Regions from separate parts of the Homo sapiens genome. Here region 1 is linked to region 2. A link means that fine-mapping ties the variant in region 2 to the expression of a gene that starts in the linked region. Tissue or cell type: hypothalamus. Region 2 holds a variant in brackets; the other region holds the start of a gene. All regions are shown on one strand. Distances are from middle to middle.

Region 1 (4,000 bases), 220 kb after region 2:
AGGTCAGGGGAATAGGAAGAATGTGATGATTAACTTTAGTGCTGGAGGAGAAATGGAGAAAGCAGGCTGTGGACGTGAGTCACTGTGAGGATGGGAACGGGGGTGGAAGTCCAGGGGTGAAGATGGCTAGGCCCACACTTGATTTCTGATAAGGATAGACAGCTCAAAGGGGCTGATAGCATCTTGATGAAGGGCGATGGTTGAGTGATAGGAAGGCTCAGAAAGACTGGAGAGGAGGTTTGGTGACTCTAAATAGAGTGAAAATGTAGCAGCTAAGGAAGTTATAAAAATGACTTCAAGTTATGAAAATGACTAAGGCAAAGTTATAAAATAGGCAAAGTCTGCTTTATTGCTTCTCCACTTCTGTATCTTTGATAGTTTCCTACCCCACTAAACATCACACTTCATGCTTTCATTTAACAAACATTGACTGAGTCCCTCTTTCATGGCAGGTAGGAAGCCCCATGCTGGGGATACAGAGATGAACAGAAACAGACACATTCCTGAACTTGTGGAGCTGCTGAGAAAGTAAGGTTGAATAGCTGAATCCTAGTGGTCTTGCTTTATTTTTTTTAATAAGCATTGTAGGAGGTCTCTATCGTACTGTAAAACTGAAGGGCAAGCATTAACCTCAATTCTGGCAAAGACTTGATAATCATGAGACAATTTTTTTTGAGAGGGTATCTAAATTATTTCCAAAACATCATTCAATCCTTTCTATGGAGAACAGAGTTGATCAATTTAACCTGAAATTTTAATCAGGAGGTTTTTGAAATTCACTGACTCAATGTATCATTGAAAAGATCAAATTCTGCTATAATTTCACCTGTTTATTTTTAAATCAGACATTGAATGAATTTTGTCTTCAATTAGCAATGCTATTGGGCATCTAGATGTGTGCAAAGCACAAAGACTGCTCATCATCTTTAAAGAGTTTGTGGGCAATCAGATCTACTTTAGAACAGTTGCCAGTCTTTTGGCCCAAAGAACAAACATGGCATCATTTGCTGCATTGTCTACGGATTCTAGGCATCTGCAAAGCCCGTGCTGAATACTGAAAATACAAAATGCAGAACACTATGCATGAGAAAAAAGTAATAAAAAAAGACAGCTCAGAGTGAAATGTTTCTTAGGCCGAATGTAGAAAAAGTTGCTGATAAGGAACATAGTGGGAAAACTAGTCAGGATTTGCAGTGCCCTGGTGTCGGGTATGGGAGCCTTGTCTAGTCTTGTGTCTAGGCAAATGAGTAGCCTCTGAGCACTGGGTGTTTTCTGTGGTTTTCCTCTTTGGGGAAAATACTCTGGGCTCATCTCCACAGTTAGAGGGGTCGTGTTGCTTAATGTAAACACTTGAGGCAGCATTCTAACTTTTCTAGATTAGGTTCCCATGAGTTCGGTTGGCCTGAGTCAGCCTCTAATAAACTCGGGACACTGGCATAACCAAGAGTCTGAATTGGCAAAGCTGAGGACCAGCCCCCGACTTGAAGTCACTTCATTGAGGTCTCCTAGGGGCTGGGCAGCCTGCCTTATCCTGGCAAGTCCCTCCGCCTCGTCCTTGGGTGGAGTGCCACACAGTGATTCCCAGAAAAGCCAAAAATAATTAACTGAGGGCTTTATTTTCTTTAGCATTACTAGTTACCAAAGTAACTCGGTGAATTCTCTTGCTGCTCACACGGTTAGACTGCTGCCTCATGGAAAGATGCCTTGAAGTTTGACTGATTTGAGTTTTAGTGTTAGCTCTGCCACTGAGTCACATTGTCTAAGTCAATTAACTTCTCGAACTTCAGTTTCTTCATCTGTACAATATAAACCCCTCTTACAGGTTTGGAAAGAGGTTGCATGGATGAGCAATGATGTATGTATGTAAAAATGTGGGCCAGCACCTGGAAGAAACAGTACGGGCTGCTGTTTACGGAAATATTTGCTGAAGAGAGAGAGGGAAAGCCCAAACCATTTTCTTAGAGTGAGGAAGCAGGGAAGGAACACTAGATAATTCTGTCACAGGAGAAGCTCTGCTGGAGAGAAGAGAGGCTGGTCAGGAAAGGTGGGGGCTTGTCAACACCTAGGCAGGTGTTAGGGTTCCAGGCAGCCCTGATGTGCCTTAGAATCGGCCAAGTTCTTCGCAGCTGGAAGAGTTCCGAATCAGGCTTCACAGGAGAGGTCGGGAAATCACCGAGGCCTCTCCCTTGGGCTACTCTTCACCCCTTTCACCTCCCAAACCAAGGAGGTCTCCCGGAGGGCGGGGAGCCTCGGTTACTAAGCGTGAGCGCGTCCATAGTAACCGCCGCCCGACGGGTTTCCCTCCTGGCCTGACAGCTCCCGCCTCTCCTATAACTGGCCAGTCAGCTCCGGCGAGCCGGCCGGGGCGGCCGCTGAGTGGCCCTCAGGCGCTGCTATCGTCACAGATAGGAAAGGCGGGGCCAGGGCCAGACTGGTCTGGGCCCCAGTCGAGGGCTGCAGGTGGTAGGCTGCGACCCCTTCCTCCCACAGCCCCTTCCCGCCCCTCGCCGGGCATCCGCCGACAGGTGAGTGGTCTCGCTGACTCTAGCCTGCCTCTAGGACTACCCCAAAGGATCCCCCTTCGCCAACCAGGACTCCAACTTCTCGCCTCAGGATCGCGGGAGGTCGCGGACACCCTGCAATTCCTCCCCGCGATCTTCACTTTTCCTTCCAAATAAAAACCGTACAAATCCACAGGCACCTCCCACCCAGACGTTGGTTTCCTCGTAATTTACCTTTCTGATGCTTTTCAAGGGTTTTCAAGGGATGCCCAGGGAAGGGGCATCCGAACCCCCGACACTGTGCTAATTCGTTTAATTTCTTAATTCTAATAATTACCCGTTAGCAGCGCTGTGCCTTTCCACTGCGGTGCTGGCCGCCCCGCACGCTGTTCCTCGTCCCCCTCTGCTTCAATAGCCGAGCCTTCAGATCTGCAGCCACGGGGAGGAGAGTTCAATCACCTGGTCTTGTAGACCGAGCTCCTTAAATTCAGATCAAAGCTGTTCTCTCACCGCCCAAAGTCGTTTCTGTTTAGCTTGGCTGCAAAGCTTTCGCTTGTGTTTGGGCAGTTTAGACCAAACCCCTTTATGTTTTCTCCTGGATGTATATAGTATTGTAGAGAAATAAACATCCTGGAAATGGGTAAAATTATTTGTTTGATTATTGTGAAAAAAATATACAGTTTTACTAACAGGCGAAAATGTTTTGAGGTAACTGACAAAATATTCTACTTTTTTCTTCTTTAAAATAAAATACTTCACACAATAAGTAGAGTGAACCCAGGGGTGAATCCATGTACCCAGTCCAAACTTAAACCAACAAAAAATCGATTACAGGCACAATTAAGGTCTGTTATGTAACCCTTGGAAATCCCATTCCCCTCTCTCCTTACCTATCCCTATTAACCAACAGAATTTAGCATTTACTTATATTCTGCATATTTTTATACTTTTACTACTCATATGTTTATCCTAAACCAATGTATACTTTTTTTTTGAGACGGAGTCTCGCTCTTGTCGCCCAGGCTGGAGTGCAATGGCATGATCTCAGCTCACCGGAACCTCCGCCTCCCAGATTCAAGCGATTCTCCTGCCTCAGCCCCCTGAGTAGCTGGGATTACAGGTGCCTGCCACCACAACTGGCCAATTTTTTTTTTTTTTTTTTGTATTTTTAGTAGAGAGGGGGTTTCACCAAGTTGGCCAGGCTGGTCTCGAACTCCTGACCTCGTGATCCTCCCAAAGTGCTGGGATTACAGGCATGAGGACCGCGCCCGGCCTACTGTTACTTTTTAAGTTGATAGAATGGTTATGCTGTACGTGTTGCAGGTCATTCATTTGAACTGTTGTGTGGTGATTCTTGCATGAATTTACCACATATTATGTATGCATCCTCCTGTTGATGGACTTTTAGTTTGCTCCCTTTAAAAATACTAGAAAGGAATTCTTGTACATTCTAATTGTAAACATATTTGCATTTCTCTAGGTACATACCAAGAAATTGA
Region 2 (8,562 bases):
TGACATTTGAACCTGCGCCCAGGCCGGATGAGGCTGGAGAAACACAACCATGTTGACTGTTCCCACTATTTATTTATTTATTTATTTATTTATTTATTTATTCATTCATTCATTCATTCATTCATTCATTTATGAGACGGAGTTTCACTCTTGTTGCCCAGGCTGGAGTACAATGGTGTGATCTCGGCTCACTGCAACCTCCGTCTCCCGGCTTCAAGCGATTCTTCTGCCTCACCCTCCAGAGTAGCTGGGATTACAGGCGCCCGCCACCATGCCCGGCTAATTTTTGTATTTTTAGTAGAGATGGGGTTTCACCATATTAACCAGGCTGGTCTTGAGCTCCTGACCTCAGGTTATCCACCCGCCTCGGCCTTCCAAAGTGCTAGGATTACAGGCGTGAGCCGCCAGGCCCGGCCGACTGTTCCCACTTGATAAGTTTGTGATGTGAACCTCAGTCGAGCCCTTAGTGCTGCCAGGCGGTCATTCTACATTTCCATAGCCCCTTCACCCTCTCGCCTTAGGCAACTATTAAAACTCAAATCTTCAACGTTTCTTCTCTTATCCTCTCTCAGCTGGTAACGTTGCTTCTTGTTTCACTGAAAATGGAAGCCGTCGGAAGACAATTTTCACACTAGCTGCCTATTTATTTGCATGTTTACTCAGGGTCTCATATTCTTTTATGATAATTGGACTGTCAGTGCTCCATTCTTAGGTCTTCCTGTCTACTGTGTCCTGGTTTCCATCTCCTCTTGCCTACTGGAAGGCATTGTTCTAGTAATTCTCTTTCTTGCATCATCAGTTTTTTAATCCTTTTAAACGTTTGCTCACATCAACATATAAACGTGTTTTAATTTCTCTTACCTTAAAAAATGAAAACTTGGCCGGGTGCGGTGGCTCACACCTGTAATCCCAGCACTTTGGGAGGCCGAGGCGGGTGGATCACGAGGTCAGGAGATCGAGACCATCCTGGCTAACACGGTGAAACCCCGTCTGTACTGAAAAACAACAAATTAGCCAGGGGTGGTGGTGGGCAGCTGTAGTCCCAGCTACTCGGGAAGCTGAGGCAGGAGAATGGCGTAAACCTGGGAGGCGGAGCTTGCAGTGAGCCGAGATCGTGCCACTGCACTCCAGCCTGGGCGACTCCGTCTCAAAACAAACAAACAAACAAAAAAAACAAACTTGACACCACATGCTCTTTCACTGGTCACTCCATTCTTTTTCCTTTAAAGACTTGTATCATATATACTTGTCTTTTAATTCTTCCAGTCTCTCTTGTATTCATTCTAGTCAGTCTCTCTTCCCCTCTCCCAACTGTACTGGAACTGCTCTTACTGAGTTCCCCGATGACCTGTTAAAAATACAGTGGTCATGGCTGGGCGCAGGGCTCATGGCTGTAATCCCAGCACTTTGGGAGGCCAGGGTGGGTGGATCATGAGGTCAAGAGATGGAGACCATCCTGGCCAACATGGTGAAACCCCGTCTCTACTAAAAATACAAAAATTACCTGGGGGTGGTGGCATGTGCCTGTAGTCTCAGCTACTCGGGAGGCTGAGGCTGATGCAGGGGAGTCCCTTGAACCCGGGAGGCGGAGGTTGCAGTGAGCCAAGATCACACCATTGCACTCCAGCCTGGCGACAGAGCGAGACTCCGTCTCAAAAAAAAGAAAAAAAAATACAGTGGTCTCTCTTTGGTTTTCATCTTACTTATGAGTAGCATTTGACACAGATGATGGATCCTCCTCCTGGAGGCACTTTGTTTGGTTTCCAGGACACTACCCCCTCCTGGCTCACCTTATGTTCCTTGGTACTTCTTTTTCAGTCCCCACAGCCTATTCCTTCTTATCTTTGTGATCTCTAATTATTGGAATGCCAGGAGTCTGTCTTAGCCATCTTTATCTTTTTAGTTGTTCAGGACAAAAACTTTGGAATCTTCCTTGATTCCTTTTATTTACCCTTCCTCCACCTCCCCAGTCAGTCAGTCCATCAGCAAATCCTGTCAGCTCTACCTTAAAATGTACTTGGAATCTATTTCTCATCACCTCCACTGCATCCATCTTAGACCAAGCCACTACTTCTTGGCCTCGTGATTAAAGTAGTTTCCTAACCAGTCTCCTAGCGTTGTGCTTTTGTCCCTCCTTCTTCTCCCCTCCCCCTCCAGATTTTTACTACAGTAGCCAGAATTCTCTTTCTAACAGGTGAGTCAGAACATGCAGTCTTACACTTAAAACACTCCAATGGATCTCCCTTTCAATGCTTTTTTGGTTTTAGCATCTTAAAATGTCGTTTAGCATCTTAAAATGTCCAAAATCAAACTGCTGATTTTGCCCCGAAATCTTTTGTGTCCATGGTCTTCCCCATCTTAGTAAATGTAACTCCAGGAGTGCAGAGCTATTTGTCTTTTTTTTTTTTTTTTTTTTTTTAAATCTGTACCACTTACAGCAGTACCTGGCACTTGGTAGGCACTCAGTATTTACTGAATAAATGAGAAGAAATCAGTCTTTCAAAGAGCAGGGTAAGAGAATAGTGTTCTAGGTAATATGAACCATAAGTGCAAAAGAACCTGACGGGGCCCAAGTTTGGCATGTTTAAGGAACTGAAAAGAAGGCCAGCCTGGGCATGGTGGCTCATGCCTCTAATCGTAGCACTTTGGGAGGCTAAGGCAGGAGAATTGCTTGAGCCCGGGAGTTTGAGACTAGCCTGGGCAACATAACGAGACCCTATTTCTGCAAGAAATTAAAATATTAGATATGGTGGCTTGCAGTACTCAGGAGGCTGAGATGTAGAGCCTGCAGTAGTGACCCCTGATTGTTCCACTGCACTCCAGCCTGGGCGAGAGCCAGACCCTGTGTCAAAAAAAAAAAAAAAAATGGCCAGTCTGGCAGGAGCTTAGGTACTGTATAAATTTCCTGTTGCTACTGCGGCAGTGAAGTCATATGTACTGTTGTAAAGTTCTGGTGGTCAGAAGTCCAGAATGAGGCTCAAGGGGTTAAACATCAAGGTGTGGGTAGGGGTTCTGGAGAATCAGTTTCCTTGCCTGATTCAGCTTCTAAACACCTGGGATCCCTTCCCCATCTTAATGCCATCAGCACAGCCTGTTCAAATCTCTGTCTCTCACCTCTACTTTGCTTGTTTCATCACCTTCTCTCACTGACCCTCCTTTGTTTCCCTTGTAAGGACCATTGTAATCATGTCATCTGACCAGCCTGGGTAATCCAGGATGATCTCTTGACCTCAAGATCCTTAACTTAATCTCATCTGTGAAATTCTTTTTGCCAAGTAAATTTACATATTCACAGGTTCCAGAGATTAGAACCTAAACATTTTTGGGAGGGGTGAGGAGGTATTCAGCCTACCACAGTTAATGAAGAGTGAGTGGCCTGAGATAAGGTCTTAGAGATTGGCAGGGACCAGATCATGATAGGTCATGATAGGGAGTCTGTTTTTCAGTCATAGTGCTGAGAGGTTTCAGTAGGGGAATGATAGGATTTGATGTGAAAAAGTCTCCCTGGCCGCTGGATGGCGATTAGACTGTTGGGATCGAGAGCAGAAGGCCTCAGCTTTTTATTCATAACATCATACGGTGGATCTCAGTCTTGCTGTACGTTATGATCACACCTCAAAGCAATTATATCTGAACCACTGAGGGCTGGACCCAAGTATCAGCCTTTTTTTGTTTGTTTGTTTGTTTTTTAAGAAAAAGAGCATTCTAATTGTAGCCAAGGTTGAGAACCACTAGTTTCATAGATCTGAATCCATTTTACCTTTTCAGCCTTAGCTCAGTAGGAGCTTCTCGCATCCATCACTTACTGCATGAGCTACTTGACCATTTCTTAGACAAACTTCCTGTATTCCCACCTGTGCCTTTCAAAATATACCTAGTCTAGGGAGGCCTACGCGGACTGTCAGGGCCCAGCTGACAAACTCTCCTCCAGAAAGCTTCTCCAGTGCCCTGTAGTAGGAATGATTTGCTTCCTTCCCTGGCTCCCATTTGCACTTAGATTTCTCAGCCCTGATCACAGTCAGCTGTATATTATCGTCTCCTTTGCTTATTTACTCATGCCTTCAACAAATACTGTACCACTTGGCTGAATGCTCTGCTAGACACTAGGATTTACTACAATGCAAAGACAGTCTTGGTTGGGCGTGGTGGCTCACACCTATAATCCCAGCACTATGGGGGGGTGAGGTGGGCGGATCCCTGGAGGTCAGGAGTTTGAAACCAGCCTGGCCAACGTGGTGAGACTCTGTCTCTTCTAAAATTACAAAAATTAGCCAGGCTAATTAGCCGAGACACACTCCTGTAATCCCAGTTACTCAGGAGGCTGAGGCACTAGAATCTAGCTTGAACCCAGGAGGTGGAGGTTGCAGTAAGCTGAGACCATACCACTGTACTCCAGCCTGGGCGACAGAGCAAGACTCTGTCTCAAAAAAAAAAAAAAAAAACCTTGTCTTCTAGGTCCTCCAGCAGCTTAATCTATATGGAGGTAGGAGCGGGTAGATGTGCAATAAGAATACTCTGAGATAATTGTTCAAATGGAGATTCGTCCAAGTGCTGTGGGAACATGGGGATTTCAGAGACAGGTTTTCAGCTATTTCAGTATTTGAGCTAAAAAACTTGAAGGATGATTTGGTATTTGGTGGTGAGCAGGGCATGGGGAAGGGAAGAGTTTTCTGAGACAACATGTGAAAGGCAGGAGATGGGAGAGAGACCGTAGTGTTCTTAGAGACCATGTAGTAACAGTATTGCTTCAGTGCTCAACAGTGCTCAATGAAGACAGTGTCAGAAGCAAGTAGGGGGCATTAGATTCTGTGATCTTCTATGCTTTATGTGAAGGAGTTAAATTTTATCCTATACTTGTAGGGATGCCATTGAAAAATTTGAGCAGTAGAGTGACATGGTGTGATTTCCATATTGGGAGGATTGCTCTGGGTAATGTAAAGGAGAGGCTGGAATAGAGAGGGATAAAGGCAGGGAGGCTGGTGAGTGGCGCTAGGAGAGGAACAGGATCAGGTTTGTTGTAGTTGAGGGGAATTGCAGTGAA[T/A]TGAGGTGTGAACCACTCTTAGAAGCCTAAGGTTATGGGGCCGGGCATGGTGGCTCACGCCTGTAATCCCAGCAATTGGGAGGCCGAGGCGGGTGGATCACAAGGTCATGAAATCTCCTGGTTAACACGGTGAAACCTGTCTCTACTAAAAAAATACAAAAAATTAGCCAGGCATGGTGGCACGCGCCTGTAGTCCCAGCTACTTGGGAAGGTGAGGCAGGAGAATCACTTGAACCCAGGAGGCAGAGGTTGCAGTGAGTTGAGGCCACGCCACTGCACTCCAGCCTGAGCGACAGAGCAAGACTCCATCTCAAAAAAAAAAAAAAAAGCCTAAGGTAAAAGGAAGCAATGCTTTGGGAAGGTAGAGGATTGAAGAGGAGATTCAGGATCAGGGTTCTTAAAAAAATCTTTTTTTGCCTAATAAGTGGCCTTGAAGAAGTTTATATGCATATGCTGATTAGAAAGATTCAATAGAGGCCAGGCGTGGTGGCTCAGGCCTGTAATCCCAGCACTTTGGGAGGCTGAGGCGGACAGATCACCTGAGGTCAGGAGTTCAAGACCAGCCTGGCCAACATGGTGAAACCCCGTCTCAACTAAAAATATGAAAATTAGCTGGGTGTGGTGGCACACGCCTGTAATCCCAGCAACTTGGAAGGCTGAAGCAGGAGAATCGTTTGAACCCGGGAGGCGGAGGTTGCAGTGAGCCAAGATCGTGCCATTGTACTCCAGCCTGGGTGATGAGCAAAACCCCATTTCAACAACAACAAAAAAGAAAGATCCAATAGATAGACTTGAAGATAGAAGAAAGTGTAAATACAGGGGAAAATGATGAAACAAATCCCCGAGGAGGCATGAAAAGAAGTTATTCTGAGCACAAATAATTGGTTTAGCCTTGGATAAGAAGAGGAGGAGTTGTGAGAAGGGGTCATGGAACTAAGGATGCAGTCAGATGATTTTGTGAAGGAGCCAGAAACCTTGAGATTATCCCCAGTAGCCTCGGCTTGCTCTGTGACTTGGGAGAGAACAGGTGAGGAGGACAGGTGTTAAGTTGTAGTAGCCTCATCTGCACCCCAGAGTTTTCTCAGATGGTGCAGCCTAGGGGCAGGGATGGAGGAGCTGAGACTTCGATTATTCTCTGGGGTTTTTGCCAGATGATTTGAGGAGGCGGGTGGAGGATCTGCATGTGTCCTTTTCTAGGTTTTGAATTCCTGATGCTGTAACCACATTATTTTATCTTCTATTTTGATGAGTATGCAGCTTTGCATTGCAGTGGCTGTGTAAACACTGAATTTTGTTTTGCTTCTTGACCATTTATTTTTCCAACCAGGATAGTAATGATGACACTGAAGATGTTTCACTGTTTGATGCGGAAGAGGAGACGACTAATAGACCAAGAAAAGCCAAAATCAGGTAGGAGGAGAAGTTGCATGAGCTGTGTTAGTGTCCAGTGTTGTTCTGTATGTATGTCAGTGCTAGCTGATGGGAGTCAAGGCAGAGTTGTTTCAATGTGCTTGTGAATACTGCATGTTGCTAATTTAACATTTAGTGTAAGACAAAGATGACATTTCAGATTTTCTTGTGAATAATTGGCATACTTAATACTGAGTTTTAAAATCAGCAAATCCAATTATTTGAACACCTGTGTTTTTAATTCTGTGCTATTTTCCAAGAATGTACCATTTCTTTATATAGTTTCTGTAGATACTTTACATTTTGATTTATTGTGCACATTTCAAAATCACATAACATTTCTATTCTAAATTTAATTCTCTCTAAATAAATTCACTTATCGAAAGCAAATTCTACTTGAACCCTGCTAAAATGCTGTTTTTTACTTTTCTTTCATCTTTCATGCCAGTCACAAAAGACCACATATTGTATGATTTCATTTATATGAAATGTCCAGAATAGGCAAATCTGTAGAGACAGAAGATAGATTAGCTGTTGCTAGAAGCTGAGGGGTTTGAAGGTAAATGGGGAATGACTGCCAGTGGGTGCAAAGATTCTGTCTGGGGTAATGAAAAGTTGTAAAATTGGAGTGATGGTTGTACAAATCTGTGAATGTACTAAAAACCATTAGATTGTTTACCTTAAATAAGTAAATTGTATGATATGTGAATTATATCTCAAAAAAGCTATTAAAAAACAAGAAACAGGCTGGGCGCGATGGCTCACGCCTGTAATCCCAGCACTTTGGGAGGCCGAGGCAGGTGGATCACGAGGTCAGGAGATTGAGATCATCCTGGCTAACATGGTGAAACCCCATCTCTACTAAAAATACAAAAAATTAGCCGGGCGTGGTGGCAGGCGCCTGTAGTCCCAGCTACTTGGGAGGCTGAGGCAGGACAATGGCGTGAACCCAGGAGGTGAAGTTTGCAGTGAGCCGAGATTGCGCCACCAAACTCCAGCCTGGGCGACGGAGCGAGACTCCGTCTCAAAAAAAAAAAAAAAAAAAGAAACAAACAAACTACCTGATAACTTTGTCTTAATGTCTGAGTGATTTCTGAGGGCTAAGGAATTCTTTTGGCGTGATTTGAAAATAGGATTCAAATTCTAAGATACGGTTTCCTTATTTCTCCAAGAGAGGTAAAATTCTTTATTATCTATTTTGTGAAAGTTTATATTCAATGAGGTGTTAAAGTCATCTGTGCATAGTGTATTTTCTGTCACTATAGGGCCTAGTCAAATAGTGGGGCTTAAGAAAAAGAGAGCTAGGAGGTTTGCTTCCTCCTACTAAAGTCACCTCTTTTATTTTGACAAAACTCTTCACAGTTACACGATGGCTAAAACATTTTTCTCTACATTTGCTAGTACCTGTAGTAAAATGTAATTGCATTTCTTTCATTGTGTTTTGGTTTTCAGACATCCAGTAGCATCGTTTTTCCACTTATTCTTTCGAGTCAGTGCAATCATCGTCTGTCTTCTCTGTGAGTTGCTCAGCAGCAGCTTTATTACCTGTATGGTTACAATTATCTTGTTGTTGTCGTGTGACTTTTGGGCAGTGAAGGTAATTTTGATTGTTTTTATTTTAAAATTATATTTAATATGAAAATGATGTATAAAAATATGACAGCATTTTGCATTATTGTTAATCTTTTGTTACTTCAAACCTCATCTGTGTTGAAGTGCTAGATATATCAAATTGCATGTAGTTTTTTTTTTTTTTTTTCATTTTTTCCCTTTGACAATACAAGATGAGACATGTAGGTTACTGTGCTGCTGATTTTTCTGTGCCATATTCTAACCTACATCAGCTTTAAAGTCAAATAAACAAACAAATGTGACTAGCAACCATAGACCCTACAATGTTGCTTCTAATCCATACCATGGGTTTTGCTTCAGGCTTACCTGTAGGTGTGTTGTATATAATTTCTAGATAAGGCCCCAGTGTAGTTTGTCCACAAATACCTAAAAAATACCTACCTTTTGAAAAGGCTCCTATGGATGCTTTAAGGCAGTGTTTCTCAACCAGAGACAAGCTTGCCACCCACTGAATATTTGTCAGTGTCCAAAATTGTTTT

Direction of the effects. Positions count from the first base shown, and alleles are read on the strand shown. Sizes are in standard deviations (SD) of each study's normalised expression.
In carriers of allele A in region 2, the expression in hypothalamus of the gene that starts at base 2,446 in region 1 tends to be lower than with T alone (moderate effect, 0.41 SD a copy in GTEx).

What was found. PIP is the estimated chance that this variant, and not a neighbour inherited with it, causes the effect.
Region 1: it holds the start of TEKT3, and the variant in region 2 is fine-mapped to the expression of TEKT3 in hypothalamus (GTEx, PIP 0.93). The same link has a PIP of 0.9 or more in nucleus accumbens.

What each region holds. Positions count from the first base shown.
Region 1 is chr17:15,340,043-15,344,042 of GRCh38, reverse strand. It overlaps TEKT3 (tektin 3), which reads left to right and starts at 2,446. Exons shown (of 9, transcript NM_031898.3): 1 at 2,446-2,525; 2 at 3,982-4,000.
Region 2 is chr17:15,553,171-15,561,732 of GRCh38, reverse strand. It overlaps TVP23C-CDRT4 (TVP23C-CDRT4 readthrough), which reads left to right. Exons shown (of 6, transcript NR_037924.2): 2 at 6,369-6,451. It overlaps TVP23C (trans-golgi network vesicle protein 23 homolog C), which reads left to right. Exons shown (of 6, transcript NM_001135036.2): 2 at 6,369-6,451; 3 at 7,904-8,048. Among named protein-coding and RNA genes, the nearest start is that of TVP23C, 6.0 kb to the left of the region's middle. The variant T/A (reference allele first, on the strand shown) is at 5,042.